Linked DNA regions of Homo sapiens. The protein of the gene in region 4 purifies or fractionates together with the protein of the main gene of each other region. This does not show direct contact. Each region holds a gene or a part of one and is shown on either strand. Other genes may lie near its edges. The genes, in order: RAVER2, UQCRFS1, RREB1 and SPATA20.

What was found.
Region 1: the proteins of SPATA20 (region 4) and RAVER2 purify together in Homo sapiens (affinity purification with mass spectrometry; 2 studies listed by BioGRID and IntAct, with this or other methods). This does not show direct contact.
Region 2: the proteins of SPATA20 (region 4) and UQCRFS1 purify together in Homo sapiens (co-immunoprecipitation; 2 studies listed by IntAct). This does not show direct contact.
Region 3: the proteins of SPATA20 (region 4) and RREB1 purify together in Homo sapiens (affinity purification with mass spectrometry; 2 studies listed by BioGRID and IntAct, with this or other methods). This does not show direct contact.

What each region holds. Positions count from the first base shown.
Region 1 is NC_000001.11:64,739,916-64,748,295, forward strand, and holds the start of RAVER2 (ribonucleoprotein PTB-binding 2), read left to right. Parts: upstream 1-5,159; 5' UTR 5,160-5,257; coding exon 5,258-5,506; intron 5,507-8,380. UniProt on the Homo sapiens protein: May bind single-stranded nucleic acids.
Region 2 is NC_000019.10:29,209,649-29,218,002, reverse strand, and holds the start of UQCRFS1 (cytochrome b-c1 complex subunit Rieske, mitochondrial), read left to right. Parts: upstream 1-4,851; 5' UTR 4,852-4,884; coding exon 4,885-5,098; intron 5,099-8,354.
Region 3 is NC_000006.12:7,229,891-7,237,482, forward strand, and holds part of RREB1 (ras-responsive element-binding protein 1), read left to right. Parts: coding exon 1-2,017; intron 2,018-7,592.
Region 4 is NC_000017.11:50,549,582-50,556,352, forward strand, and holds the end of SPATA20 (spermatogenesis-associated protein 20 isoform 1 precursor), read left to right. Parts: intron 1-403; coding exon 404-534; intron 535-626; coding exon 627-731; intron 732-954; coding exon 955-1,029; intron 1,030-1,126; coding exon 1,127-1,336; intron 1,337-1,416; coding exon 1,417-1,609; intron 1,610-1,929; coding exon 1,930-2,098; intron 2,099-2,387; coding exon 2,388-2,599; intron 2,600-4,669; coding exon 4,670-4,869; intron 4,870-5,650; coding exon 5,651-5,731; intron 5,732-5,910; coding exon 5,911-6,081; 3' UTR 6,082-6,271; downstream 6,272-6,771. UniProt on the Homo sapiens protein: May play a role in fertility regulation.

The DNA.
Region 1 (8,380 bases), on a different chromosome or scaffold from region 4:
CCTATTCTCTATTTGACTGCCTTTTATGCCATACTGAAGTATTGACTTAAAATGGAATCAACTTCTTTAAACTGGAATGACATCTTCTGCCTTTCTCGTTTATTTCCTGCTACTCTCCCAAAAGAAGTATAGTCTTCATAAACACCAAACTTATTCTTCCATAGACCTACCAGTCCCTTTGAGGCCTTTGGGCCTCTCTGTTTCCTGTTTCAGTACTTGCCCCATTTCGTCTAGAAAACTCCTACTTGTCCTTAAGACCTAGCTCCTCATAATGGCTTCCTCTAAGTCAAAATTGAACGCCTGTCTGTGCTACAAAGAGTACTTTATTCATGGCATTTATGACATGGAATTTACAATTACTGAGTTGCAATGACTTTCCCCAGGGAAAAGTCCATTTCTGAATAAAAATCAATCAAATTCGGTGTGTGGTACACCGGTGTACAGTGTCTGGTACATTATAGACATTCAATAAATACTGCTAAATGAATAATGTGTATTGTTTATAGTTTACAAGGTCTTTTCACATACTTAACTTATTTTCATCATATTATCATATCACATAAGCATAAGAGTTTGGATACAAGAAGCTGTTGTTATTACTATTATTATTAAACTGAGACTTAGTAAACATTTCTAGCATTTTCCCCACCTGCAGAACTTTAAAAATACACAAAAATTACCAATATGGGACAGTAAACTAGTTCAACCATTGTGGAAGTCAGTGTGGTGATTCCTCAGGGATCTAGAACTAGAAATACCATTTGACCCAGCTATCCCATTACTGGGTATATACCCAAAGGATTATAAATCATGCACATGTATGTTATTGCGGCACTATTCACAATAGCAAAGACTTGGAACCAACCCAAATGTCCAACAATGATAGACTGCATTAAGAAAATGTGGCACATATACACCATGGAATACTATGCAGCCATAAAAAATGATGAGTTCATGTCCTTTGTAGGGACATGGAGGAAGCTAGAAACCATCATTCTCAGCAAACTATTGCAAGGACAAAAAACCAAACACCACATGTTCTCACTCATAGGTGGGAATTGAACAATGAGAACACATAGACACAGGGTGGGGAACATTACATACTGGGGCCTGTTGTGGAGTGGGGGGAGAGGGAGGGATAACATTAAGAGATATACCTAATGTAAATGATGAGTTAATGGGTGCAGCACACCAACATGGCACATGTATACTTATGTAACCAACCTGCATGTTGTGCACATGTACCCTAAAACTTAAAGAATAATAAAAAAATAAATAAATAAATAAACTTTAAAAAATTACCACCAATATTTAAAAAAATAAAGGCTAAAGCTAGCATAGGGCTCATATTTTAATAACATGGTCATTATATAGATCATGATAATTACCTGTGGGTATTGGTAAATACATTGCTGCTTGATAATTGTACTTCACTTCAAGTTCAGATTAGAGTGTTCCTTTAGTATGCCATGGAAGCAGCTATTTAAAGAGTCAGGCTAAACCTGGCATGAGAGGAACTCTTTGGAATTACAGTAGCATTCCAAAGTCTTTGCAGTTTCCATCCAGTTCTTTTATGTGGCAATAACAATTAATTCAGTTTAAAATTATTTTTAACCAGTAGATTCTGCCATTTCCCTTAATTCCTTGAAAACAGTTGAGCAAATGTAAAACATACTTGATTTGAAATCTAGGGCAGTGTTTTTCGAAATGTGAGTAAGGACTCATTAGTGATATGCAAAATCGACTGTGTAATTCAAGCAATTTTAAAATGGAATGGAATAGAATAGGAAATACTAGAATGTGCTACATGATGAAGGAGCGTGATGTTTTGTGAAATCTTCATTTCGATTGTGTGTGTGTTTACTAAATTGTGATATAAAATATATTTCCCACTGTGGCATATATTTCCCACTAGATTGGGTCAAAAAAGTTTGAAAGCCACTACCCTATACGACGTAGCAATATTGCACAAGGAGTGGGATCAATTCAAAGTAGCCACTTAATAAAATTGGCTTAATAATTTGATAACATTGTAATCATGTCCCCATTGGGGCCAAAACTGGAATTACATTATCATAACTCCCAAAACATAATCAACACCTGATTCATTCACCAGACTTAACCTCAAATAACATTTAATTATTTCCAAAAATTAAACCCATCTCTAAGAGGTGAGTATTTGCTACCACATAAACTATGCAGAATAATTTGCTGTAGATTATAAAGTCAATTCCAAAAAAGCACTTTGGGGCTGGGCGTGGTGGCTCACGCCTGTAATCCCAGCACTTTGGGAGGCCGAGGCGAGCGGATCATGAGGTCAGGAAATCAAGACCATCCTGGCTAACATGGTGAAACCCCGTCTCTACTAAAAATACAAAAAATTAGCTGGGCTTGGTGGCACACGCCTGTAGTCCCAGCTACTCTGGAGGGTAAGGCAGGAGAATCGCTTGAACCTGGGAGGCGGAGGTTGCAGTGAGCCAAGATCACGCCACTGCACTCCAGCCTGGGCAACAGAGCAAGACTCCGTCACAAAAGAAAAAAAAAAAGCACTTTGGAGAATGTTTTGAGCAAAAGCAATCACTGAAGTTATATTCAGACCACTATCCGTTTGCATATTTATTATATTTAATTATAATCATTGCATAATTTTCTCTCAGTGAGACTTAGCCCCTATTGTACAGGAGCATTATTTTACTATTTCTGTCTTCTTATTGCCTTTATATATTATCTAGCACATAAGGGACATTTAATAAATGTTTGCCAAGGAGGTGGTACTCATTTGGATAAATACATGTTCTGAAACATAATGAATGACTCAAGGTTACAGCCTATGCTAAGGCTATTCATGCTTCTTCACTTCAAAGAATGTACTTTTCAAAGTCTCTCAGCTCTACAAAATAGGGCCTTATTGGAGTTTAAAATGTATACCTTTTAAAATCAAAGGAATACAATTTAAAAGCAAAATGATACATTAATACTAGAATATCATGGATGCAAGCAGAGAAATAAGTGCTCTTATACAATGCTTGTGATAGGGAAAACTGAGGTAAGTTTGTAAATACATACAAAAAATCCTTAAATATGCTTACTCTAGATGCAGAAATTTTGCTTCTAGTTCTTCACTCTGTGGAAAAGTAATGATCTTCAAATATGTATAGAGGGTTAAACTCAGTGCTGTTTACAATAGATAAAAATAATAGGAAATACTAATGCTAGGAAATAAGTGAATTTTCTAATTCAACAGAATAATATGCAGCCATAAAAACCATGGTATTCAAATACATTGGCATAGAAAGGGATTCAGCAGACATACTGTAAAAAGCAGAAAACAGAGCTGTAAACTACAGAATATCATTCAAAAACATTTTTATGCAGTAATAGTCACGTAATAAAATTAATATTTTAAAAGTGAATAGTTCAGTGACTATTTAGTACATTCATATTATTGGGCTACTGCCCCCTCTGTCTAGTTCCAAAACTAGATTTTCATCATTCCATAAGGATGTTTGCACCCATTACCTTCTCCTCCAGCCCTTGGTAAACACCAATCTGTGTTCCGCTCTATGAATCTACCTATTCTGATATTTTATACGCATGGAATCATACAATATATGACCTTTTGTCTCTGGCTTCTTTCATTTAATGCTTTGGAGGTTCGTCCACCTTGTAGGGGTCCTTAATTCCTTTTTATGGCTAAAAATATTTCTTAGCATATATATATCCCACGCTTTGCCTATCTGTTCATCAATAAATGGACATTTGGGTTGTTTCTATCCTTTGGTTACCAGGAATAGTGGTGGTATAGAAGGGTGTATTGCCGAATATCATTTTAATGATACAAGTATTAGCAGCCATTATTTTTGGGTGGACGGATTACGGGTGAATTATTTTATGTTATTCAGAACACTGGGCTTTGGAATCAATCAGAACAGATCCCATTTCCTCACGTGTAAAGTGAGGAAAACAAAACCTACGTAATTGAATGATCATGAAGAGTAAATAAATATGTATATGTAAAGCATTTAGAAATGCGTGGTTGGGGGGAGCACATGGTAAGGACTGAATTTGTAGTATTTTTAAAAAATCTTTAAAACATTTTGTTTTTCTTTTAATTAGTGTTAAAGTCTTTTTTTTTTTTTTTTTTTTTTTTTTGCTAGTGTACTTGCATGCTACACAATTAAGATGCATGGTCCCCTTCGCTGATGGTCACCTGGGCTAGTGCCAAAGGCTGCTGGATTGTTTGATCTGATGACATCCGTTTGACTAAGTATAGTTCTACACTGTAACTCTCCCTCCAAGTTTCAATTAAAATAATGTTCCAAGCAGCGTATTCTCCAGCCCCTCTGCCACAGCTCCTTTTCCATTCTAGTCTTTGTTTCAGCATCACTTTCCATGTTGCAGACCCAACTACCCAGGTTTTACATTTTAGGAACTGCATGACAGGGACAGAGGGACAGGTGAAGGGCACAGGCTTTCTCATACACAGCTAGCAAAATACATTACGATCAGGTTTTACCAAATACATAACATTTCTCCCACAATGTCCCTCTTTTTACTCCCCAGAAAATCTCATTGTAAACTCAAACTTTGCCAAATATGCTCTTCTTGAACCAACAGAAGGGTTACCATCGGGAGCCAGCCGGGCTGCAGGAGGCGCCCTCCTGCCACCCCTCCAGCCCCATCTCGGGTGTGGGAAGACCGAGTTCGCGCCCGCAGCCCCCGGGCCGCCCCAGCGCGGGAGTTTCGAGGGGAGCCGGGGGAGAGCTGCGGCGTCACATGGGGGGCCAGCCGGGGACAGGCGCCTGGGGCTGAGTCTCCCGGCGAAGCCACCGCGAAGGGGCCGCATCCCCCAGAGAACGACCCTGGGCGTTCGCGAAGGCCTCGCAGAGAGGGGGAGCCCGCCTGCGCGTCCGCGCCCTCACAGGTGTCCGGGTGGCGGCGCCCGGCCCCGCCTGCGGACCCGCGAGAGGCGGGCGCGGGCGCGCCTGTGCGCCGGGGCCGGGGGCCGGCGGGGGAGGTTCCCGCGAGGTGGTTCTCGGGCTCCTCCTCGGCGCCTCAGGTTTCCTCTCCCCGCCAGCAGGCTGCTGGCTGCGGCGCCGCCTCTCTCTACTCCCTCCTCCCACCGCCCCCCTTCCCCGCGGTTGGGCCCACTCTGCGGCCTCTGCCCGCCTCGCCCTCGCCCGGGCCTCCTCCCGCTTTCTCTCTCCGCTTCCCCTGGAGCCTCCGAGGAGTCCGCAGCCGCTGGGCGCCCGGGAAGATGGCGGCGGCGGCGGGAGACGGCGGCGGCGAGGGGGGCGCGGGCCTGGGCAGCGCGGCGGGGCTGGGGCCGGGGCCGGGGCTGCGCGGGCAGGGCCCCTCAGCCGAAGCGCACGAGGGCGCCCCGGACCCGATGCCCGCCGCGCTGCACCCTGAGGAGGTCGCCGCGCGACTGCAGCGGATGCAGCGGGAGCTGAGCAACCGCAGGAAAATCCTGGTGAAAAACCTGCCCCAGGACAGCAACTGCCAGGTACTGGGACGGTGATAGGGGCGACGCGTCCCGAGGGGCGGCGGGGCGGCGCTCCGTGTCCAGGCTGGGATCGGGGGCGCCTCAGAGCGGTCCTGGGGAGTGGGTCGGCGCCGAGTGGTGAGAGCGGCCCCTCGGTTTGACTGAGTTCTTGGGGTTTCTAGCCTGCAGACGCCCTGCCAGGGAGGGGGGCAGATTGGGAAACTGAGGCTCTGAGTGGCGAAGCGGCTTCTCCAAGGTCACGGGAATCAGGGGCTGCTGCCTCCAAGTTCGGCCCGGTCTTTCCTTCCCCTACGGCCGTAGAGGAGTAGGAGGTGAAGGAGAGTGGAGGTGAGTTGTGGAGCACACATTTTGCGGGGGGGAGCGGGGGTAGAGGGGGCCGAAGCTTCGGGAGCACCTTGGCAGGGGCGAGGGCTCCAACGTATAGTCCCCGGTGCTCGGGAGTGCCATAGGGGGCAGGGGCACGAGAGAGCTGGGAGTGAGTTTCGCTGTTGTTGCAGAAGCACTTGCCCAAGTTTCTATGAAACAACTCTGTCTTCTCAGTTTGCTAAGGCCCCAGAATAGAGTTATTGCTGCGCTCCTTGGAGCCTTGCAGCCGCCTCCTGCTACGCCAAGTACAGTACTGGAGGGTTTGTTCTCAGTGACTTGGATGAGGTTTAAAGATAGCTACTCTGTGTATTTAATCCAGATTAACTGTTGCTTTTAAGATTAGAAACTCTGCATCTATTTAACTTTTTTTTTCCCCTGATTTCAAAAGCTGCATGCTCATTGTAGGAGAGCTAGGAAAGACAGAGAAGCACAAAGGGGACACAGAAATTACCCATATTTCTGATACCTGAAGATAACCATTGTTATCCTGGGATGTTGTTCTTTTCTCTTTTCCTATGCATATATATTTTTGTTTTATCAAAAGCTTGAAATCATTTCTTTGATTCTTCAGGATTTCTTAGCTGTCTGGATGTTCACACATGTTTCACATATAACCTGAATTTATATACTGCTCCGAGTGTGGTGGGCTGTCCTGGTAGTTGCGGATTTGTAGTTCCTCCTGTAACCGGATGCATGAAATTGCAAGAGGGCTGGCTATTGACAATTGCATGGCAGTTCTTCCATGTGACTTATAAAATAATGAGACCAATGCCCCATTACTATGTAATGAGACCTTACATAGCCATTCACAATAAATATGAACATATAACCTTATAACCCGTAGGCATGGGGGGCTATTTTGTTTCAAAATGCAGTGTCTGTCAGTATTGTTTATCTCATCTGTCTTTCAACTCTTTCCATTCCGCCATGGTCCACTTCCCATCTGTCAGGTAATGTTTTGTGATACTACCTGTTAAGGACACCTGCAATGGACTGATTTCTTGGAAGCAGCCTCCCCTGCCCATACAAATAGAGGACTGTAAGGGAGCTCAGGAAGGAGGAGGCTTGGAAGAAGCAGATGGCATTTTTTAAAAAAACAAATTTAAAAAATAGCAGCTCTTTGTATAGACAGTCTAGGAGGAGAGAAATAGAGAAGTATCTCAATGTCTTTGTAGAATGTCAGCTGTTTTTGTTATCACAATTCCTTGCATTAATTCTAAATATATTTAGACCCCAAATTGAAGACGTTCTGTCTATTCTTGCTTTGCTGTTGGTATCTTTCTCATTTCCCTTCGCAATAGACATGAAAAATATATCAAAGGGTCTAATAAAAGGAGCAGTTTTAATTAGTGATAGAAGCTTTCTCAGAATTACACTGGGATTTGTATTTTTGAGATTTCATCTACTTAAACTAATATTTTCATATGTTCTGCATGAATTTTTTTGTATTTTTTGTTTTAACAATTTCCCTTAATTATAATGTCTGCTTTTTCTTAGTGACTATATTTTACTGTCAACTTACTGATGAAAGTTTCACTTTATTTTATTTTGTGTCTTTTTGCTAGTAAGGCCTACATAAAATCACCTGTGCTAAAACTACATATTTACCCTTATGAAATGGTTAATATGGCTTTTGTTCAATTATTAAGTAATCAGATATTTTTGAAATACTAAGTTCTTGTTCTTTTCCAGAAGAGACTGTGTTTATTCATTCATTTCTTTCTTTCTTTTTTTTTTTTTCTGAGACAGAGTCTCGCTCTGTCATCCAGGCTGGAGTGCAGTGGCGCGACCTCAGCTCACTGCAACCTCTGCCTCCCAGGTCCAAGTGATTCTCCCTGCCTCAGCCTCCCAAGTAGCTGGGATTACATAAGCCTGCCACCATGCCTGGCTAATTTTTGTATTTTTTAGTAGAGATGTGGTTTTGCCATGTTGACCAGGCCGGTCTTGAACTCCTGACCTCAGGTGATCCCACACGCCTCGGCCTCCCAAAGTGCTGAGATTACAGGTGTGAGCCACTGTGCCTGGCCTCATTTCTTTATTTTAGAATATCACTTTAAGGATCAAAGACATTCATAACTCTAGTTCTCAAACTGTGTATTTATGTCTCTAGAAAATACTGATCAATAACTTACTAGTAGAAACCCAATAATTTTTTCTTAACATTTGAAATATATGAGTGTTTTCTTTATTAAATGTAGTTTTCATAAATCTCAAATTTTGTTTTATTTTTGGTATAGCAGATTTATAATAGCATCCCACAACTTTATAGTTCCTATAATTAAAAGGCATACTGAAAGTATTTTTAACTGGAAGCTTTTAGAGGTATGTTTATCAAATACCTTATAGAAGTACCGGCTCTAAAAAAAAGTGAACACCTTTATATTAAGTTCTCAAAAGCTTTCTCACTGAATAATTACTGTGCATTCAGTCAAGCCCTGTCTGGTCTGCCTAAGCTTTCTGGAATCTTCCTGGCCCTCTTTGTTTTCACAGCCTCAGCTCTGGTTCAAG
Region 2 (8,354 bases), on a different chromosome or scaffold from region 4:
CAAAGAAGTAGGGGCACAGAATTACAGAAACGGGTTTTATGGAACACAAATGCCTTTTAAATGGCTTAGATTAAGGACAGTCTGTGCAGTTCTCAAGCGGCTGTCTGTCTTCACATCTCGCTGCTCAAGTGAGGGACGTGGGCTGTGGGGAGAGGCTGAAACTGTCAAGATGGCTGCAACTGGAAATGGGAAGCCAGGCATTTCCCGGGGTAATTGTGTGGAAACAGGAGACAGGCGTGGGGTCCCTTCAGCAGGGAGGCGGTTGCCTTTCTGTGTAGGCACTAGGTGAGATGAAAGTGGCTGGGAGGCATGTTCCCTGGGGATGAGGCAAAGGCATCTTACTGGCTTTGCACATTATGCAGGATCACAGGCAGAACTACCTAGGGACCAATTTTGTTTTGAGGATGACGAATGCAGAATCCCAGCACATTTGCCTTAGAGCTCCCCTCCCTATGCCCCCTCAACACACATTGCCCAGATGAACACATCAAGGCAGTAGGGAAGAGGGCTGGGGGCGGTGGTTTGCGCCTGTAATCCCAGCACTTTGGGAGGCTGTGGCGGGCGGATCATGTGAGGTCAAGAGTTTGAGATCACCCTGGCCAACATGGCGAAACCCTAACTCTACTAAAAATACAAAAATTAGCTGGGCATGGTGGCATGTGCCTGTGATCCCAGCTATTCGGGAGGCTGAGGCAGAATTGCTTGAACCCAGGAGGCAGAGGTTGCAGTGAGCCGAGATCACACCACTGCACTCCAGCCTGGGCAACAGAGCAAAACTTTGTCTCAAAAAAAAAAAAAAAAAAAAAAAAGACTGTAGGGAACAGGAAGTGTCTAGACTACAACTCACACTTGGAACTAGGAGATTCCCCTGCATATCAGTGTTCTGCTACTCTCCGGAATCAATCGATCATGCTTGTGCAAGGAATTATATAAACCTGAGGTCCCAAACTCGAGGCCTCAGCAGATGGGCAGGTAATGTAACTGAATGGACACAGTGGGAAAGGACCCAGACCACCAAGCAGGTACCTACCCTGGCTGACAGCACCCCACCGTCTTTCTCTTTGTTGAGGACATGGGCCTCGAGTGGCTTAAAATAATGCAATTTTATTATTTTACAATTCTGGAGGTCTGAAGCCTAACACAGGTCTGTAGGGCTGCACTTCTTCTGGAGACTCTAAGGGAGAAGGTTTCCTTTCCATTTCCAGCTCTATCTCTGCCTGCAGGTCCCTCCTCTGGCCCCACCCTCAAAGCCAGCAATGTGGCATTTCTGTCCTCTCACCTCTTGCTTCCCTCTTCTAAGACCCTATGAACATGCCGCACCCACCCGGACACTGCAGGAAGACTCTCTGATATGGTTTGGCTCTGTGTCCCCACCCAGATCTCACCTTGAATTGTTACAATCCCCTTGAATTGTAACAAGGGGGGGACCAGGTGGAGGTGATGGATCATGGGGGCGGTTTCCCCCATGCTGTTCTCATGACAGTGAGTTCTCATGAGATCTGACAGTTTTATAAGGGGTTCCCCCTTCGCTCTGCTCTTATTTTCTCTCCTGCCACCCTGTGAAGAGGTGCCTCCTACCATGATTGTAAATTTCCTGAGGGCGCCCCCCCAACCAGCCGTGCTGAGCTGTAAGTGAATTAAACCTCTTTTCTTTGTAAATTACCCAGTCTCAGGTATTTCTTCATAGCCGCATGACAACAGACTAATACACTCTCCCTATCTCAATCTCCAATCACAGCTGCAACATTCCTTTGCTGTGTAAAGTAACATATTCCCAGGTTCCAGGGATTAGGCTGTGGACATTTTTGTGGGGAGGCATTATTCCATCTACCACAGTTTGTATGTGGGAGTACTCACAATTTGTAAATGCTAGCAAATAATTCTGAGGTTCATAGCACTGTGTATGCCAGATCACCAGGTGTCTCTGGGCAGAAATGAGTGGGGAGAGAATGAATCTCCAGTCCATGACTTCCGACCTCTGATTTAAACAGTGTTTGTTAAAAGGAAGGCTTGGTGTCATGCTTCCTCCTGCCTTGTTCATACATACACATTGCGTGTCAGACTTCCAGGGAACTGAGAAGCTTACCAAGCATTTATGTTCCCAGGCCTGTGGCTATTTTTTTCCCTCAGTTTACAAAACTAACAATGTTTATTAAGCTCTCATTGTATGCCAGTGTGCTAAATATCTCACATGGATTCTTTCTTTTAATTTGCACAGCAATGTCATTTTTATCCCTGTTTTACAAATAAGAAATCTGACACTCAGTAACGTTGCCCGATGTCACACAGGTAGTAAGGGGCAGAGCTGCCATGAAGGCCAGGCTGTCTGGCTCCAGAGTGAGCTGATACATGAAAGCTAAAACCCCCTTCAGTTAAATAACAACCACTGAGGGGTTGCAGTGGTGTGTACCTGTAGTCCCAGCTACTCTGGAGGCTAAGGGAGGAGGACTGCTTCAGGCCAGGAGTTTGAGACCAGCCTGGGCAACACAGCAAGACCCCCATCTACCAAGTGGAACCCAGGTTGGCCTACAGAAGTCCAAGTTCCAGTATGCCTGCCACTCCTGGACATTGGCCTCCTTCTTCCACGAGAAGACAGCTGTTCGGCCATACAGTTACCCATCTCTCTGCTGCAACGCTGGACTCGAACACCACTACCAGATGCGTTCTTATCAATGTGTCTTTGGGCATGTCATTTGTCTTCTCTGAGTCTTAGTTTCTTCATCTAGAAAATAGAAAGTTATTATTATTGCAGATATTTACATACTGTGTGCCAGGCACAGTTCTAGGCATTTTACATGTATTAATCCATCTCATCCTTAAAATAACTCTCTAGGGTAGATCCTGTTATTATCTCTGTTTTACAAGAGAAAGACGGAGGCACACACAGAGATTAAATAACTTGCCCTAGGGCACAGCTAGTGAGTGGTGAAACTAAAATTGAACCCAGGAGGTCTGGAGATAATTCCTATTCTGTTCACCCAACTGGGACATTGTGAAGGTTTTGTGAAGGATCATTCATTCATTCATTCATTTTTCATTTCCTTACCAACTCAGAGGGAATTGTGATATTATTTCTTGTGAAGCACTCAAACCATGCATGCTGTGTGACAACTTCTCTGGAAATGTCTTTTATCCTAAGGTTGTTGCCAAGGGAGAGCACTGAGCCAGCTGTGTGATGAGCCTGGCTAGGGTGGCCCCTGAGGAGGCAGCCTCCAATCTTGAGAGTACAATATAGTCCCTTGGGCTATAAGGCTGGTCAAAGCCTAGGCCCTAAGGGGAGTCATAGGAAGGTCAAAGGGGAAACCTGTCAGTACACTTTGGACCTGGCATGAGGAATAACAACGAGTCAGCAAGGATCAAGGGAAGGCTTCTTAGAGGAGGTGGCATCTCAGATAAAAACACCACTAGCAAATCCTCACTTGGTGCTGCCTGTGTGCTGGGCCTGCTTGTAGATGCTTTACACGTTTTAGTTCATTTACTCCTCCCAGTAACTTTACAACACACATGGCATCATTACTGCCCCCATTTGGCAGGTGAGGAAACTGAGGCACAGAGAGGTGAGGGAACTTGCCCAGATCACAGAGCCCATGCACAGCACAGAGCCAATTCTGTGCACTGCTTATATTAACATTTACTTAATATTTAAATTATTTTTGACCTAAATGAAAAACTTTATCTCAGTATAGTACAGAATAGAAAACCAGTATGGATAGAAAATCAATACTATGAACCATATAATGAAATCACTCTAGACTCAGTTCTCTGCTAAGAGCTTCTAACTCAAGATCTTTTCTGTTAAAAGTGGGAGATAAGTGTAGAGAGGAATTAAAGATATATTAGGATCAAACTGAGGCCAAGTGAATTTGCTCATGCCTATAATCCCAGTACTTTGGGAGGGGGAGACAGGACTCCTTGAGGCCAGAAGTTCGAGACTGGAGTGGGCAATATAGTGAGACCTCATCTCTACTTTTTTTTTTTTTTAATTAAAGATGTATTAGCACCAAACTGAGACTTTCTCATTGGTGCAATCAGGATTGAAAAACAAAACAAAAGAAAACAAAACTTTCTCACTATGTGATGGAACATGAATGAGCGAGCTCTGTGCATCCTCTAAAATTCTAAAATCCTACTTTGGGAAACAGTGGTGGCACTGAAGAGCATAGACTCAGGAGACAGATTACCCTGCTTCACATCTTGCTGGCTATCCAGTTCCTGGAAAAGAATCTCTCTAAACCTCGGTTTCTTCATGGGTAAAATGCTGATAGTAATAGCTCTGACTTCATAGAGACCTTGATAACAAATGAAAGAACGTAGGTATAATAAAACGCAAAACCAAATACACAGTGAATACTTAATAAACATAATCCATTAGCATTATCGAGCTTTGCACAGATGCCTCTGGCCTTTTTGTTGTTGTTGTTGTTAGATGAAGATAATAAAAATCATCATAGTAAACACATAGCGATTACTATGTGCTGGACTTCGTCGTAGTTGAGATATATTACCATCCTAAGTTAAACTATAATCGTTTATTGTTATCTCTAGGTCTTCCTAGATGAAATTTTTACCCTAAAGGATCGTAAAGTCGGCCCACCGGACGTCAGTGGGGTCCCCTGTTCAGCCCTCTCGTTCTTCTGGGGATCTCTCGGGACACTGACGAGGTGGCACCGGGACCTACAGGTGGGCCGCAAGCCCCGCCCCCAGCGACGGCTTGTAGCCCCGTCCCCCGACGCAGCGCCTCTCCAAGTTTGCCCCGCCCTGCAGGACTGCAGAATTTCCTTTCCGGCGGCGCGCTGTCGTCACGCGTCCCGCGCCTCCTCGCGCCTGCGCCGTGGTTGGAAGGTCGTCCCTGTGACCGGCTTGGCGGTTGGAGCGGCTGTCGCCATGTTGTCGGTAGCATCCCGCTCAGGCCCGTTCGCGCCCGTCCTGTCGGCCACGTCCCGCGGGGTGGCGGGCGCGCTGCGGCCCTTGGTGCAGGCCACGGTGCCCGCCACCCCGGAGCAGCCTGTGTTGGACCTGAAGCGGCCCTTCCTCAGCCGGGAGTCGCTGAGCGGCCAGGCCGTGCGCCGGCCTTTGGTCGCCTCCGTGGGCCTCAATGGTGAGCCGGGGCGAGGGCCGCGAGCAGGGCTGGGGGTCTCTCGGTGCCCGCTCCTCCGGCCCCCAGCAGGGAGCGGCCGCGGGCGCGCGAGCGGAGCCTGAATCAGGTCGGGCTGGGCGGCCTCCGCAACTCTGGGCCTGGCCCCCGGGCTCGGGGCGTCTTTCTGGTGGCCGGCCTGGACTCGCGTCCGCCGGCTTCGCCTGGTTCCTCCTCGGCCGAGTTCACGAGCTCTGTAGTCCCGCTGTTCCAGCCACCTCTGAGGGGTTTTGTTGCTTGCAGGTCGTTTGACCTTGGGCGAGTTTCTAAACGTACTTCCTGTGAAATGGATTCATATCTTTATCAATTTTGTAGGGGTGTCGTGAGGCTTAGGTGGAGGAATTCTACGTAAAGCCGTTAGCACAGTTTGGGCACTTACATGCTTAAGAAATGGAAACTTACTAATATTTGGGAAGTTGGTCTTCTCACCACTACCGATCCCTTCATGTCCTTCCCCTTCATCACCCCCCCACCAAAAAAAAAACAAAAAAAACATACACAAGGTCAGTTACAGTGTAGTGTCACAACATAATCAGTCGTCAAGGACGGGCAGAGATTGACGACATTTACATTTTACAGATGAGAAAACAGACGAGGTAGAATGACTCGCACCAGGATCCGTGGTGTGGACATGTGGTAGCAGGGATTTGACAAGACGAATTGTCGTAGCCACTGAGCTCTTCGCAGGGGCTATTCCACACCCTCTGTCCTTAGATCCCCGTTTATCTTCTTTGCCTCGCCTTCCATCTTTACTTGGCCCTGTATCGGAGATAGAGAAATGGCAGCCTGTGGGCAGTGTGTCTGCAGGCTGTGTAGTTTTCAAAAAAACTGGGAAGACTAATGGCATCTCTTAAAATGCTGGAAGCCGGTAATACTGGGATCTAGTTTCTACTTGGGAAAATTCCATAGTGTGCTGTGTAGTGGCCGCCCCCGCAGTTGGAGCAAGTGGTCTTCTCCAGTTTGTCACAGTCTTTACCAGGTCTGCGTGTTTCATTCTGTTACCAGCCTGGCTCCACTGATAGCTGTTTGTGACTCTTCCCCTACACGCTAACCAAATTGCCCGCCACTTTTCTTTTTACTCTGTCTTCATTCACCCTGGGCTCTGCACTTTCTTCATGGTCCTTCCACTAAGTTGCTACATGTCCATATGTTTTCCTTACCCATCTTTTCAATCTCAGTTAAGGATCAGGTGAATAAAGTTTTTATTTGCTGATTTGTCTGTCTCTGTAGCACATACACTTTACACTCTGTATTGTGTTTATTGGTAACTCCTCCACCCTTGGGCTTAAGGGCATAGAGAAGGTAATATCTTCTTTATTTTTCTATCTTTCACAACGTCGGATTTTGTATACAGTTAGTGCAAAGTATTTGTGAATGAATATTTGTTAAGGAGCATCAGTGGGTTTTGAAGAAACTGTCCATGGCAGGTGTAGAGTACCCTAGCCCATCCTTGGGACCTGGAGGTGAGAAGGAAGGAAGGAGAACATTTCAATAGCAAAAGAAAAGCATCTTTGGAATTCGTCGTGTTGCTAAAGTTTCTTCAAAAAATTGGAGGCTTACATTTCTCTGATGGCCAGTGATGCTGAGCATTTTTTCATGTGTTTTTTGGCTGCATAAATGTCTTCTTTTGAGAAGTGTCTGTTCATGTCCTTCGCCCACTTTTTGATGGGGTTGTTTGTTTTTTTCTTGTAAATTTGTTTGAGTTCATTGTAGATTCTGGATATTAGCCCTTTGTCAGATGAGTAGGTTGCAAAAATTTTCTCCCAATTTTTAGGTTGCCTGTAAACCACAATGAGATACCATCTCACACCAGTTAGAATGGCAGTCATTAAAAAGTCAGGAAACAACAGGTGCTGGAGAGGATGTGGAGAAATAGGAACACTTTTACACTGTTGGTGGGACTGTAAACTAGTTCAACCATTGTGGAAGTCAGTGTGGAGATTCCTCAGGGATCTAGAACTAGAAATACCATTTGACCCAGCCATCCCATTACTGGGTATATACCCAAAAGACTATAAATCATGCTGCTATAAAGACACATTTACATGTATGTTTATTGGGGCACTATTCACAATAGCAAAGACTTGGAACCAATCCAAATGTCCAACAATGATAGACCGGATTAAGAAAATGTGGCACATATACACCGTGGAATACTATGCAGCCATAAAAAATGATGAGTTCATGTCCTTTGTAGGGACATGGATGAAATTGGAAATCATCATTCTAAGTAAACTGTCGCAAGGACAAAAAACAAACACTGCATGTTCTCACTCATAGGTGGGAATTGAACAATGAGAACACATGGACACAGGAAGGGGAACATCACACTCTGGGGACTGTTGTGGGGTGGGGGGAGGGGGAGGGATAGCATTGGGAGATATACCTAATGCTAAATGATGAGTCAATGGGTGCAGCACACCAGCATGGCACATGTATACATATGTAACTAACCTGCACATTGTGCACATGTACCCTAAAACTTAAAGTATAATAAAAAAAAAATTGGAGGTTTACCTGACTTAGAGAAACTATTTTTAGAAACAGGCAAATAATGTAGAACCATAAGGCAAAAACCTTTTCTGTAATCATTTCAGCCTGTAATTTAAGTTCACATTATAGTCTGTCTAGATGGTTCATGGCAGGATGGCTTATGGGAGTGGAGGGGTTGGATCTGGAGAAGATTCTTGAATTGGAGAGGAAGGTTGTACTATTTTCATGCAGATTTCCAAGGCGCATTGGAGCTCAACCTTAAAATAAAACTTGTTTTGTTAAAATTCCTTAAATTTTCTCCTTTAAGTATTTGATTTTGCTTTAGGTTAGAATTAAATCTAGCATCTTACTGAAAGTCAGACCTAATGCAGCTCATGTAAATATTTGGAGAATGATTTTTGCAACAGGGCAGTTTAATTTCCGAAAGGATTCTTGGTGGTGTAGCCTACTAAAGTGTAACCAGCTAGATAGAGTGGGAGGAGACTTTTGCCACCAAATCTCTGAATGAGAAGGGCAAAGCCATTTTATTGAGTTTTCTTGTACATTTCCTTGTATACTGTTAAGGGTTGTGGATACTGTTTTTAATGTAGAAGTATGAACTTTTTATTCCTTTATCTTTTAGGGAGGAAGCTCATCTTTTCTGTAATCCCAGGTAGTGCTAGGAGCAAGTAATTTATGCTTAATTCCAAATGCCAGTATATACTGGCAGGTTAGCATTTATTTGTTA
Region 3 (7,592 bases), on a different chromosome or scaffold from region 4:
CAGGACAGCATCATCGAGGCCCTGCTGCCGCTGAGCATGGAGGCCAAGATCAAGCAGGAGATCACAGAGGGGGAACTCAAGGCCTTCATGACAGCGCCCGGCGGCAAGAAGACGCCCGCCATGCGCAAGGTGCTCTACCCCTGCCGCTTCTGCAACCAGGTGTTTGCCTTCTCGGGGGTCTTGCGTGCCCACGTGCGCTCCCACCTGGGCATCTCGCCATACCAGTGCAACATCTGCGACTACATCGCCGCCGACAAGGCCGCGCTCATCCGCCACCTGCGCACGCACAGTGGGGAGCGGCCCTACATTTGCAAGATCTGCCACTACCCCTTCACTGTCAAAGCCAACTGCGAGCGGCACCTGCGCAAGAAGCACCTCAAGGCCACCCGCAAGGATATCGAGAAGAACATCGAGTATGTGAGTAGCAGCGCGGCCGAGCTGGTGGACGCCTTCTGCGCCCCGGACACCGTGTGCCGGCTGTGCGGCGAGGACCTCAAGCACTATCGTGCCCTGCGCATCCACATGCGCACGCACTGCGGCCGCGGCCTGGGCGGGGGCCACAAGGGCCGCAAGCCCTTCGAGTGCAAGGAGTGCAGCGCCGCGTTCGCGGCCAAGCGCAACTGCATCCACCACATCCTCAAGCAGCACCTGCACGTGCCCGAGCAGGACATCGAGAGCTACGTGCTGGCCGCCGACGGCCTGGGCCCCGCAGAGGCGCCGGCCGCTGAGGCGTCGGGGCGCGGGGAGGACAGTGGCTGCGCTGCCCTTGGTGACTGCAAGCCCCTCACTGCCTTCCTGGAACCCCAGAACGGCTTTCTTCACAGGGGCCCCACCCAGCCTCCACCTCCCCATGTCTCGATCAAGTTGGAGCCCGCCAGTAGCTTTGCGGTGGACTTCAATGAGCCCCTGGACTTCTCGCAGAAGGGCCTGGCCCTGGTCCAAGTGAAGCAGGAAAACATCTCCTTTCTGAGCCCTTCTTCCCTGGTCCCCTATGACTGCTCCATGGAGCCCATCGACCTGTCCATCCCCAAGAACTTCAGGAAAGGGGACAAGGATTTGGCCACTCCCAGCGAAGCCAAGAAGCCTGAGGAGGAGGCGGGGAGCAGCGAGCAGCCCTCTCCCTGCCCAGCACCCGGCCCTTCTCTTCCTGTAACTTTGGGGCCCAGCGGAATCCTGGAAAGCCCCATGGCCCCTGCTCCGGCGGCCACCCCGGAACCCCCAGCACAGCCCCTGCAGGGCCCTGTTCAGCTGGCGGTCCCAATCTACTCCTCAGCCCTGGTCAGCAGCCCTCCACTCGTGGGCAGCTCAGCCCTCCTGAGTGGCACAGCCTTGCTGCGTCCACTGCGGCCCAAGCCCCCGCTGCTTTTGCCAAAGCCCCCCGTGACAGAAGAGCTGCCCCCGCTGGCCTCCATTGCCCAGATCATCTCATCTGTATCCTCGGCCCCCACCCTGCTGAAAACCAAGGTGGCGGACCCAGGGCCCGCAAGCACTGGCAGTAACACCACGGCTTCAGACAGCTTAGGAGGTTCTGTCCCCAAAGCCGCCACCACCGCCACCCCCGCTGCCACCACCAGCCCAAAAGAGTCTAGTGAGCCTCCCGCTCCAGCCAGCAGCCCAGAGGCTGCCTCTCCCACCGAGCAGGGCCCAGCGGGCACGTCGAAGAAGAGGGGCCGGAAAAGGGGGATGAGGAGCCGACCCCGCGCCAACAGCGGCGGGGTGGACCTGGACTCCAGCGGGGAGTTTGCCAGCATCGAGAAGATGCTGGCCACCACAGACACCAACAAGTTCAGTCCGTTTCTGCAGACAGCGGAGGACAACACTCAGGATGAGGTGGCCGGAGCCCCTGCCGACCACCATGGGCCCAGTGATGAAGAGCAGGGCAGTCCCCCAGAAGACAAGCTGCTGAGGGCCAAGCGGAACTCGTACACCAACTGCCTGCAGAAGATCACCTGTCCCCACTGTCCCCGGGTTTTCCCTTGGGCCAGCTCCCTACAGAGGCACATGCTCACACACACTGGTAAGAGGGCCACCGGGCTCCCAGGCAGTGAGTCCTACTTCCTGGTAGGGGGAGCCACGAGTGGGGGTCAAAAGCGAGACCCATCTCCCACAGTTCCAGTTATTCCTAGCTTGGCTTCTTCCCCGGTCTCCGAAGCCCCGAGCTTGTCTGGTGGTGCTGTATTTCCTATGTGCTCTCAGTACCCACATGGCCTTTGTGCAGGGGCCGAGCCCTCCAAGGGCAGCATTCTACTAAGTGTTCATCCGGGGCGTTTTGAGGTGAAAGTGGTCACAGGCCCTCAGATCACTCATGGCGTCGCCTCATCCCTTCCGGAGGTGGTAGCCAGATTATCTGCTGGGTTAAACAGGGAGGCGGCTCCACAGACGTGAGACTTTGTATTAAGGTATTGGGGCATAATGAGCTCGGTGCTTTGACATTCCATTCCAGTGTCCTCAATGCAGCTTTTTAAATTTTGACAATTTTGTGAAGTTTTTTTGGATGCCATGTCTTCTTAAAGAGAAATATGACAAATTGTGAGGTTGGCTGTTTTCTTTCAGTTCACTAAGGCAGTCACATCTTCCCCTGTTGATTGTGAAAATCAGCAATGAGTGGTGGTAGAATGTTTTAAAATTTCTGTTTATACTACAATTGTAAGCCTTTCTGAGAAACTTCTCTCAGAAGGGCCTGGCGCTGGTCCAGGTGAAGCAGGAAAACAACTCCTTCCTGAGCCCTTCTTCCTTAGCCCCCTACGACTGCTCCATGGAGCCCATCAACCTGTCCATCCCCAAGAACTCACACCCAAGTGTGAAAAAATTCTAAGTAACAAACTTAAATTGTCAAAGTGATACCCCAAAAGTATCTTCCTTTTTTCTTTTTCTTTTTTTTTTTTTTTTTTAAATAAAAGAGTCTCACTATATTGCTCTCAAACTTCTGGGCTCAAGCAGTTTTCTTGCCTCTTCCTCCCAAAGTGCTGGGATCACAGGCATGAGCCCCCACACCTGGCCCCAAAAGTATTTTTCTTTTTTTGAGACGGAGTCTCGCTCTGTTACCCAGGCTGGAGTGGAGTAGTATGATCTCAGCTCACTGCAACCTCTGCCTCCCTGGTTCAAGCAATTCTCCCTGCCTCAGCCTCCCAAGTAGCTGAGATTACAGGCATGCGCCACCATGCCCAGCTAATTTTTGTATTTTTAGTAGAGATGGGGTTTCACCATGTTGGCCAGACTGGTCTCAAACTCCTGACCTCAGGTGATCTGCCCACCTTGGCCTCTCAAAGTGCTGGGATTACAGGCGTGAGTCACTGCACCTGGCCTGCCCAAAAATATTTTTCAAATGTTAGTTTCTAGAAGCTGATTTTTAAAGAGAAGTTTAGGATAGGAATATACTTTAAATAATTTTGTTATCAGGTGCTTCTAGTATATAAATGGCCATACAACTCTCATCTGAATTATAATTTTCTAAATTTTCTCAGTGAACAGTCTCAGTATTCAGTGATTTGTGTTATTGAACTAAGCGCAAATTAGTGAGATCCTATCTTTTTGGAGTTTACAACCAAAATATTAATAAATAGATAGGGCCTAAAACCAAATGGTACTGGATTGGTGAATAAAATACAGAACACCAGTTAAACTTGAATTTCAGATAGACAACAAATAATTTTTAGTATAAGTATTTTTATGTAGTTCTTGGGATTTACTAAAAAATTATTTGTTTATCCAAAATTCAAATTTAGCTCTGGGCATCCTGGGTTTTTTTTGTGGGTTTTTCTTTTTGCGCTAAATATGGTAACCCAAGGTAGTCAGGAGGTTTATGACAGGATGTTGAGGGTGGGTTGTGGGAATTGGTGTGAGCTGTGCTCTGTGTCCAGGTGGAAATGCATTCACAAAGCTTTGGAGAAGCTCGTGGAAGGATGTTTCTCCTAGATGAGGTGGAACAGCAGGAGGGAGGTCATGGAGCCACCGCTGGATACCTGAACAGTGTGCAGAATGGAGCCTGGGGAGGGAGAGGAATCTGGGAGCCAGAGGGGAGTTGTGGCTGGGAGCGATAGGACTCTCAGTGGCTGCACTGGTCACCAGAGCTTGCCACACAGACACGGCATTTCCTTCTGCTGTGGTGGGTCCTTGAATCCAGGGATTGAGGAGTAGCAAGTCAGGAGTGCCTATCCAGGGAGGACTCAAGGAGAACCAGGATTTCTAGATTTGTAAAGTATGTACTGCCCTTTCATACCACTGTCTCCCTGTTAAAATAGTTTAAGCCTGACAAGTAAAGCAACCATTCTAATGATGACAGCAGTTCAGGGAAGAAAATGCATCTTCAAGAGAAGGTGCCCCTTATAGCAATGTCTTTTGCTACCCTTTTTTGGGTGCCACCTGTTTATCGCCTACTGAGAGTTTATGGAGAAGTGAGTCTTTCTGTTACCACTTTTCAGAAAGCAGATGGTCTGGATCTGATGATTGGCTTGGCTCGCCCCCTTCCTCGGTGCTCCCACCTCCCCCTGCTGTCACCCAACCTCCCCATCTTCCTCTTCTAGTATTTTCTTTTTTAAGAGTTGTGCCCATGTCTTTGCAGGTGCCTGATATGTGTTCCCATTTGTGAATCCAGTCATGATTGCCTGGCTTTTGAATGCCAAAATGTCAGTGTTGGTTTAAAATTTAGTAGCATCTGAAACTGAGCAAGAAAGCAGGAGGTTTGTTTAAGTTAGGATGGGGTAGATATAAATATAAACATTCTGCCTCTTGTCCCTTAAAAGTTATTGATAACCTTGATAGATGTGTCTGCTTTGGCGCAGTCCCTGTATCCTACCATAATATGTTCTTGGTAGAGCTAGTCTTCATGACAATCCTGTGAGGGTGATGTCATCCATGTGTTGCCACAAGGAAATTGAGGTTTACTTTTAAGGAGCTAAGTAACTTGCCTACAGCCATATGGGGAATAAGAGATGGAGCTACTGTTCCAAGCCAGGGTCCGGTTCTGTGCAACTGCCCACTGGTCAGGGTGTGTGTGCCCAGTGTGTCCTCTGTGTGAAGGCAGAAGGCGGGCAGAGTGCACCTTCCATGTCTCCCTGTGTTCCCACATGTCCACATTGCAGAAGGTTTGGAAGTAGTTTGAGATAAGGGGGGACACCACTGTGGATCAGAATGTTATTAGCTAATTTCAGACTTAATGACTACAGAATCGTGTTAGCCACATGCATAGACACTGTATGAAGGTTGGTGCCCATTGAGCTCCATTAATTTCCTTTGCTGGGCTTCACTCTCAGCTTCCAGGGATGTTCAGCATCACCACTGCTAAATCATGTTATATGGAGCACTTGGCTACATCCAGTGTCGTGTTAGAGCATTTTCCATTCACGGAGCATTAGAGCTGGAAGGAGCCTGGGAAGTCACCTGATGGCCCCTCAGCCCACAGACCTGATCTTTCTCCTGGTAGGCAGCTCTGCTGTCACTCAGAACCACATGGATCCTTGGCTCCCTAGGCTTCTGTGAGGCGCTGTCTCCAAAACTTTGAAAAAAGTCTTGAGTGTACACATGTTAAACATTGACTCTGCAGCCACCCTGCAAACAAAGGTGTTATTCGGAGAAGATGTTCTGTGGGGTATTTTTGTTTTTTCTAGTTTTTTGCTTTTGTACAGACAAGGTCTCACCATGTTACCCAGGCTGTTCTCGAACTCCTCAGCTTTGCAAAGTATTGGGATTTTAGGCGTGAGCCACGGTGCCTGGCCGTTTTGTGTTTTTGAGTACAGTGTTAAAATCTAGCTGAGTTCCAGCCAGAAGCATTGAGCAGCATCTGGTTTTGGACTGCATTTAAACAAACTGTCTACACCTTGAATGCTGGCCTCCTCCTACCCCCTCAGCAGATTACTGTACTGTCTCTACTTTGTCTCAAAACACGTGTTCTCCAGTCCTCCCAGTCCTCAAAGGGGCAGCAAGAAGCAGATCCGGTGTTCAGTGTCCAACGAGGGGTATACCTGCTGGCTGCTGGCAAGGAGCATGTGGCCTCAGCCTTTTCTTGCTCCCGGCTCAGGTTCCAGGAACTGTGTTTGATGAGGAAGCTGGCAGGGCTGTCATTTTTCATACCCCCTGGCACAGTCTCCACACACACCTGCCTTTCCTCCTTCCTTCCACTCCTCTCCAGCTCTCTCCCAGACCATACTTTCCTGCTGATGAGGACAGTTCCTGGTTCCTTACCTTTCTCTACCTAAACGCGCCACTCCATAGGAGACAAGAGTGCACTGTTCCTGCCTTTACCCCTCGGGAGCATCTCGTGTGTTTTTAGGCCACAGGTGGAGGAGAGGGTGCCAGGAAACACAGCCAGTCTGTTCTAGCCTCTGTCCTCATTTTCTTCCCCCTTCCCTTTGCTCCAGTTCCTTGTCCCACAGTGATGGGCTTGGGACTATGGGGTGTCCATTCCGGGCTTCCCTGGCTTGCTTACTTTCTCATGGGTGCTTTGAGCGCCTTTTTTGAGCCGGCTCAGGCTTTCCCCCCACACCCTTTCCTCCCTGCTTCTATCTGGCAGTGAGGGTCAGAGCTTCGGTCAGTGAGTCATCCAAACCTGGGTGTGGAAAGCACCTGGGACACCACTTGTATTTGGCTCCTTTTAGCTTTCTTAAAAGACAGCTTTGGCCGTTTGTACCCAGTCCTGTGTACACTTCTGCCAAATACAGAGAGAAAATACCAAAAGAAAGAAACCTGCCTGCAGGGGTGGAGGAGCAATGGAGAGAAGGCTGGGCTGCTCAGGCTGTCATCTTGTTACAAAAAGAAAAGCAACTGCAAGGTTTTCTATGCTAGTTAGACCCCACCTTTCTAACCCTGATTGTCTTTGAAAAATGAACAGAAATGTTTTCAGTTCTGTTTTTTTTTTTTTTTATCTTGGAGGCCAAGGCCCCAATCTCCTCATCAAACTATTCTCACTGTTCACTCTTCTCTTGCCCCAATGTCCTTCTTCGTTTCTTGACTGTTCTGGGAGAGTAAACACTGGCTAATTTTTTTTGTTTGTTTTTGGAGGTTTTTTTTTTTTTTTTTTTTTTTTTGAGACAAGCTCTCACCCTGTCACCCAAGCTAGAGTGCCTGTGTGCACCCTGGCTAGAGTACAGTGGCATGATCACAGCTCACTGCAGCCTTGAACTCCTGGCTGAGTTCAAGTGATCCTCCTGCCTCAGCTTCCCAAGTAGCTGGGACTACAAGTGCACATCACCATGCCTGGCTAATTTTTTTATTTTTTGAGACAAATTCTTGCTCTGTAGCTCAGGCTGGAGTGCAGTGGCGTGATCTTGGCTCACCACAACCTCTGCCTCCCGGGTTCAAGCGATTCTCCTGCCTCAGCCTCCAGAGTAGCTGGGATTACAGGTGCGCGCCACTGCACCCAACTAATTTTTTGTATTTTTAGTAGAGACAGGGTTTCACCACATTGGCCAGGCTGGTCTTGAACTCCCGATCTCAGGTAATCCACCAGCCTCGACCTCCCAAAGTGCTAGGATTACAGGTGTGAGCCTCCGTGCCGGCCTTTTTTTTTTATTATTATTTGTTATAGAGACAAGGTCTCACTGTGTTGCCCAAGTTGGTCTTAAACTCCTGGGCTCAAGCGATCCACCTCCGTTGGC
Region 4 (6,771 bases):
CTGTCCTCCTGACTGGCAGTGACCTCCTTGCCCCTAGCCTGTCGGTAGCTATCGGTGAAGACCCGACTGCTGGTGTCAGCAGTGACCCTCTCACCTTAACCTAGATGATGACCTTCTGTCCCCTGACTTGGTCAGTGACCCAGTGACCCTGACTTGGCTAATGACATTCTGGGCTCTAGGGGGACAAGTAACTTACTGGTCCTCTGTGAACCAATGATATTCTGACCTCTGGCTTAGGCTATTACCTTCTGTCCTGTGGGTTGACTCTTGACCTCACAGCCTGTCCAGAGACTGCCTGTTGAGTGAACTCCCAGCCTCTGCCTGGCCCAAGGCCTCCTGACCACCCCGATCTCTGTCCCCACTTTCCCATTCTCTCACCTGCATGTTCTTGGTGCCCCCACAGTGATCCTGAGCTTCCTGTTCTCCTACTGGCTCAGCCATCGACTGACTCAGGATGGCTCTCGGGCCCAGCAGATGGCCTTGCATACCCTGAAAATGATGGCTAACGGGGGCATCCGGGACCATGTGGGGCAGGTGACGGGCACTGGGTGTTCCCTGGAGGGGCAGCAGGGGGCTGTGGGGTGGGGCAGAAGCTGGGACTGGCCTCCAGCTTTGTATCCGCACAGGGCTTTCACCGCTACTCCACAGACCGCCAGTGGCACGTCCCTCACTTTGAGAAGATGCTCTATGACCAGGCACAGCTCGCTGTGGCCTATTCGCAGGCCTTCCAGGTGACCCCTGACCCCAGCCCAGAGAACAGGCATCTCACTCTGGCTGCCCCTCCCAAGGCCTTCCTGGTGACTGTGGCTTCTCTTAATCTGAATCCCCTGTTCCCTCCCATGTACCCACTACCCAGGCTTCCCTCCCCCGCCTGCCTCAGAGAATGTTGCCACCTTCCACCTGGGCCTCCCCAGTGACCTCTCTGTTCACAGTCTCCTTTCTTCCCTTTCTTAGCTCTCTGGTGATGAATTCTACTCTGACGTGGCCAAAGGCATCCTGCAGTACGTGGCTCGGAGCCTGAGCCACCGGGTGTGTGTCCATGGTGGCAGGCAGGCCTGGCTGTGGGAGGGGTTGGGGCCTCCACTGCCCTGTGGGCCGGGGCCAGCCAACTCTCCCCTCCCCACAGTCCGGAGGCTTCTATAGCGCAGAAGATGCAGACTCGCCCCCAGAGCGGGGCCAGCGGCCCAAAGAGGGCGCCTACTATGTGTGGACGGTCAAAGAGGTTCAGCAGCTCCTCCCGGAGCCTGTGTTGGGTGCCACCGAGCCGCTGACCTCAGGCCAGCTCCTCATGAAGCACTACGGCCTCACAGAGGCTGGTAACATCAGCCCCAGTCAGGTGAGGACTTCTGGGGTCACCTGACGGGCCCTGGTGCCTGCCAGGCGTGTGAGCTCGCAGACAAAGGCCATTCTCCTCAGGACCCCAAGGGGGAGCTGCAGGGCCAGAATGTGCTGACCGTCCGGTACTCGCTGGAGCTGACTGCTGCCCGCTTTGGCTTGGATGTGGAGGCCGTGCGGACCTTGCTCAATTCAGGGCTGGAGAAGCTCTTCCAGGCCCGGAAGCATCGGCCCAAGCCGCACCTGGACAGCAAGATGCTGGCTGCCTGGAATGGTGGGGCAGCACACCTGAGACCGAGCCTGTCTGTAGGATCCCCCTTCACAAAGCCCCTGTCTTTCCGGCAGCGGCTAAATGCTCACTCTCCCTTGATTAGCGTTATTATTCTCAGTTGACAAAAGAGGCTTAAGGAGCTTGAGTAACCCGCCCAAGGTCACGCGCAAGGGCTGGGAACCCCGCCATGTCTGGCTTTGGAGCCCAAGATCTTAGGGATCACCCATGGCTCCAGGGAGGTGTTGGGGCCTAAGGTGATAGGGTGGACATGCCTGGAGGGTCCTGGCCAGCTTCTTACCACTACTTGTCTCTCCTGGCTCCAGGCTTGATGGTGTCAGGCTATGCTGTGACTGGGGCTGTCCTGGGCCAAGACAGGCTGATCAACTATGCCACCAATGGTGCCAAGTTCCTGAAGCGGCACATGTTTGATGTGGCCAGTGGCCGCCTGATGCGGACCTGCTACACCGGCCCTGGGGGGACTGTGGAGCACAGGTTGGGGGCTGGGTAGACCGGGAGGGCCCGTCTCCCCAACGCGTCCCCAGCCTACCTCTGCCCTACTTCTCCCCTCCATGTGGACTCCAGTCCTGGCTCTGCCAGGTGCTTGCTGTGAGTTTGTAGCTTCCCTGGGCCCATTTACTCATCTGGGAAGTGGGCTGATGGCACCTGCCCAAGAGGGTTCATCTGGAGGGTTAAGTGAACAAATGCGTGAAAGGGCCTCCTCTGGGAAAGGCCCTCTCTCCTGGGGCTCTCCCCAGCCCCTCCCGTAATGCCTGTCCCCCAGCAACCCACCCTGCTGGGGCTTCCTGGAGGACTACGCCTTCGTGGTGCGGGGCCTGCTGGACCTGTATGAGGCCTCACAGGAGAGTGCGTGGCTCGAGTGGGCTCTGCGGCTGCAGGACACACAGGACAAGCTCTTTTGGGACTCCCAGGGTGGCGGCTACTTCTGCAGTGAGGCTGAGCTGGGGGCTGGCCTGCCCCTGCGTCTGAAGGACGGTCAGTGGGGGTGCAGGGCTAGTCTGGGGTCCTGGGAGGTGTAAGTGCAGCGTGGGTGAAGAGCTGGTGTGGGCAGGAGCCCTCCTGGCTTTGTGTCTCTGCTACTTATTAATGGCGTGATTTTTGGCTGCTGTAATATTTCTGTGTCTCAATTTCTTTTTTTTAAATAGAGACAGAGTCTTGCTATGTTGCCCAGGCTGATCTTGAAATCCTGGGCTCAAGTGATCCTCCCACCTCGGCCTCCCAAAGTGCTGGGATTACAGGCATGAACCACTACACTCAGCGTGTTTTGTTTCGTTCCTTTCTTTTCTTTTTATTTCCTTTCTCTTTCTTTCTTTCTCTTTCCTTTCTTCCTTTCTTTCTTTTCTTTCTCTCTTTCTTTCTCTTTTTTTTTTTTTTTTGAGACAGGGTCTCACTGTCACCCAGGCTGGAATGCAGTGGCATGATCTTGGCTCACAGCAACCTCTGCCTCCGGGGCTGAATCAATTCTCCCACCTCAGCCTCCTGAGTAGCTAGGACTATAGGCATGCACCACCATGCCTGGCTAATTTTTTGTAGAGATGGGATTTCTCCATGTTGCCCAGGCTGGTCTGAAACTACTGGGCTCAAGTGATCTGCCCACCTCGGCCTCCCAAAGTGCTGGGATTACAGGCGAGAGCCACCATGCCTGGCCTGTTTCTTAATAAGTAAAATGGAGCTAACATTGGTACTACCTTACAGGGTTGATGTAAAGATGAATGTAGCTGTTCTGTAAACATGCTTAGCACAGTAACTGACACCCATGGATTCAGATATTGACCAAGGCTCACTTGGTCTCTGCCCTCATGAAGCTTACAGTATGGTAGGGGAGACAGCGAAAATGCAGTAATGATGCAAAAACACATGCACAAATGTGCAGTTAAAATTGTGGTGAGTGCCATGAAGAAGTAGGACGCTCTATGTGTGCCTGCTCCCTATCACCCATGTGCCTTGTCTGTGGTTAAAGGTTTCTTTCCCAAAACTCAAATTTTAGCTCCTCAAAGATCAGGACTTTCTGCCACTGTTGTATCCCCAGGGTCTAGTGTGGTTCTGGCACATTGTAAGTGCTTAATAAATGTTAACTGAGTGAATGAAAGGGCCTTGGGAGAGAACCACAGAGGAGGACCAACTCAGCCTAGGGAGAGATTAGAGGACACCTGTGACAGGTGTCATTTAACCAAGGCCTGGAGGGAAAGAGGGGCCATGTGGCCATGGAGAAGCTGTGGAGAGAGTTCAGGCATAGGGAGCAGTGCATGACAGGCCTGGTGCAGGCAGCCTGTATCCTGGAGGACAGGCAGGGCCCGCGTGTTCCAGGAGGGCACCGAGGAGAATGCTGAGGCCGGCAGGGCACGGAAGCCGTCTTTTTTTTTTTTTTTTCCTAAGAAAAGAAGGCTGGTCTCAAACTCCTGGGCTCAGGTGATCCTCCCGCCTCGGCTTCCCAGGTGCTGGGACTACAGGTGTGAGCCACCATGCCCGGCTGGCAAGGAGGTTTTAAGTGGATTGTGATCTGCTCTGGTATGGTTTTAAGGAGGTCACTCTGACCACTGATGGAGAGAAGTGGGGGTGGGGGAAACAGGCGACCAGTTAGGAGGCCATTACTCGTGTTCAGTCCAGGCAGGCATTGGTGAAGGCTCAGAGGATGTGGAAGTATGAGATGGGGAGACATGGTGAGATTTGGATCTCTTCTGGCCACAGCCCTGGCAAGACTCACAGATGGATTAGAAGCGGAGGGAGAGGGAGAGGAAGGGGACAGGATGATGCCGCTCTAGCTTGAGCAGCTGAGTGGCTGGACAGAGGCATCAGCAGCGAGGAGGGAGCCTGGAGACCAACAGTTGAGGCTAGGACAGGTAGAGTGGAGGGTGCCATAAAAAAGACAGCAAAGTACTGATAACTGCTGGAGTGGCATCCACACCCAGAGCGGGGAAGGGGCAGGATGGGCAGGGCCTTTTCTCTGTCCCGTCCCCCAAGTGGCCCTGGATACAGTCCTGGGCAGGGTCCTGGGACTCAGTGACCTGCCCTTACCCCCACCCCCTGCCTCCCTATGTGCTGTAGACCAGGATGGAGCAGAGCCCAGCGCCAATTCCGTGTCAGCCCACAACCTGCTCCGGCTGCATGGCTTCACGGGCCACAAGGACTGGATGGACAAGTGTGTGTGCCTATTGACCGCCTTTTCCGAGCGCATGCGTCGTGTCCCGGTGGCGTTGCCCGAGATGGTCCGCGCCCTCTCAGCCCAGCAGCAGACCCTCAAGCAGGTGGGGGGTGAGGGCATCTGGGCTGGGACCTCGGGTAGGAGGGAAGTTGGGGCTGCGATGGCAGATGGGAACAGGGGGTGGGGTTCCTGGGCTGTCCCCAGAGCTCAGGTCTGTGTGTGTGCAGGCACGTGGCCTGTCAGACAGGGAGGCAGAAGTTAATATGAGTCCGTGGTGGCTGATGAAGTGTTTCTCTGTACGTCTTGGTGTCAGTGTAATTGCTTCTGTCCATACTGTGTTACTGGTGTGTGTGTACTTCCGGGTGTGTGTGACCCTGGAGGTGTGTGTCTGTGCACCTACCTTTGAGGGGGATGCTGGTGTGAGTGTTTGTCTGTCTGCATGTGGATGCCCCATCTGCAGGTTTGCCTCTGTGTCTGCCTGCATGCGTGTGTGTCTGGTGTTTGTGTGTGTGGTATCTGCCTCTGTGTGGGCATCTACTGTGTGTGTGTGTGTGTGTGTGTGTGTGTGTGTGTGTGTGTGTGACTACTCTGTGTCTGTCTGAATGGGTCTCTGTGTGCTCTGGGTCTTCTGGGTGTGTGTCTCCCCATGTTTGTATCTGTACCATTGTGTATATGTATGACATTTCCACTTCGGTATTCTCATGTGTGAGTGTGTGTGTGTGTTCCCACTTGCCAAGCATTAACTCATCCTGGCAGCTGAGATGAGTCCCTGTTCCTTCTTAGAGATATACGGTGGGGCGGAAGGAGGATGGGGAAGCCCTGGTGGTCTAGGGCTCAGCCCTCCCTCCCCTGACACACCGGAGTGACCTTTCTATTCCGGTCAGATCGTGATCTGTGGAGACCGTCAGGCCAAGGACACCAAGGCCCTGGTGCAGTGCGTCCACTCTGTCTACATTCCTAACAAGGTACCCATCCCTGTGAGCCCAATCTGCCACCTCCCCAGAGCTGCCCCCTCCCATCCTCAGCTCCTCAACATCTCCTTCCCCTCAGAATGTTGGGAAGAGGGAACTTCCCAGTGGGCCTTTCTAATGGGCAGGTGACCCCACCCCGGCAGGTGACTCTCCCTGCTCTGCTGCTGCCCTAGGTGCTGATTCTGGCTGATGGGGACCCCTCGAGCTTCCTGTCCCGCCAGCTGCCTTTCCTGAGTACCCTCCGACGGTTGGAAGACCAGGCCACTGCATATGTGTGTGAGAATCAAGCCTGCTCAGTGCCCATCACTGATCCCTGCGAATTACGAAAACTACTACATCCATGACTGCCCCAACCCCCTTGGGGTGGGGCAGAAGGTGAAGCATCCCAACTGACTAGAGACTCAGGCCCTGCAGGGCCCTATAGAACCTGTGGCCATCCCTGAGCACCCTGCCACCAGGTGACCTCGGCCATACTCACTGCCCCCCTTGGGCACCCACTCACCCTAGAATAAACTTAACAGTGTCCCGTGGTAACCTGAGGGCCTCAGCTTTGCTTATGAGGGAGGGACTGGGAACCAGCAGCTCAGGGCCACTTCCTCTGGCAGCCCCCACCTGACCCCTCTGCCTTCTCCCATTTCTCCTTCATCTTCCAGGGGTCAGCAGACTGCCCCTTTCCCTTCCATGGTCATTGTAGCCTGAATGAATTTAGTCCCCTGAACTGAGGTCAGGGGACTAAAACCAAGTAAAGATGCCCAGGGGTGGGCATGGGGGTGTGGACTGGCCCAGGAGGGAGAAAGCACAATCCTTGCCCTCAGAAAGAGGTTAAGAAGGGAACCTGCCCTCCCCTCCCCATTGTCTCCTTGTGTTGAGCTGGAAAGGGGGCAGAGATGCTTTATATGAGCTTTTATATTTCACAGAATGGTGACTTTGCATATGCCCTGGTGCATTGTGGGAGCTGCTATTGTCACGACTAAGACATTTCTTTTGGGGTATCCATCTAGCCCCAGCCTCGAAAGGATGGAAGCAGGGCCTCC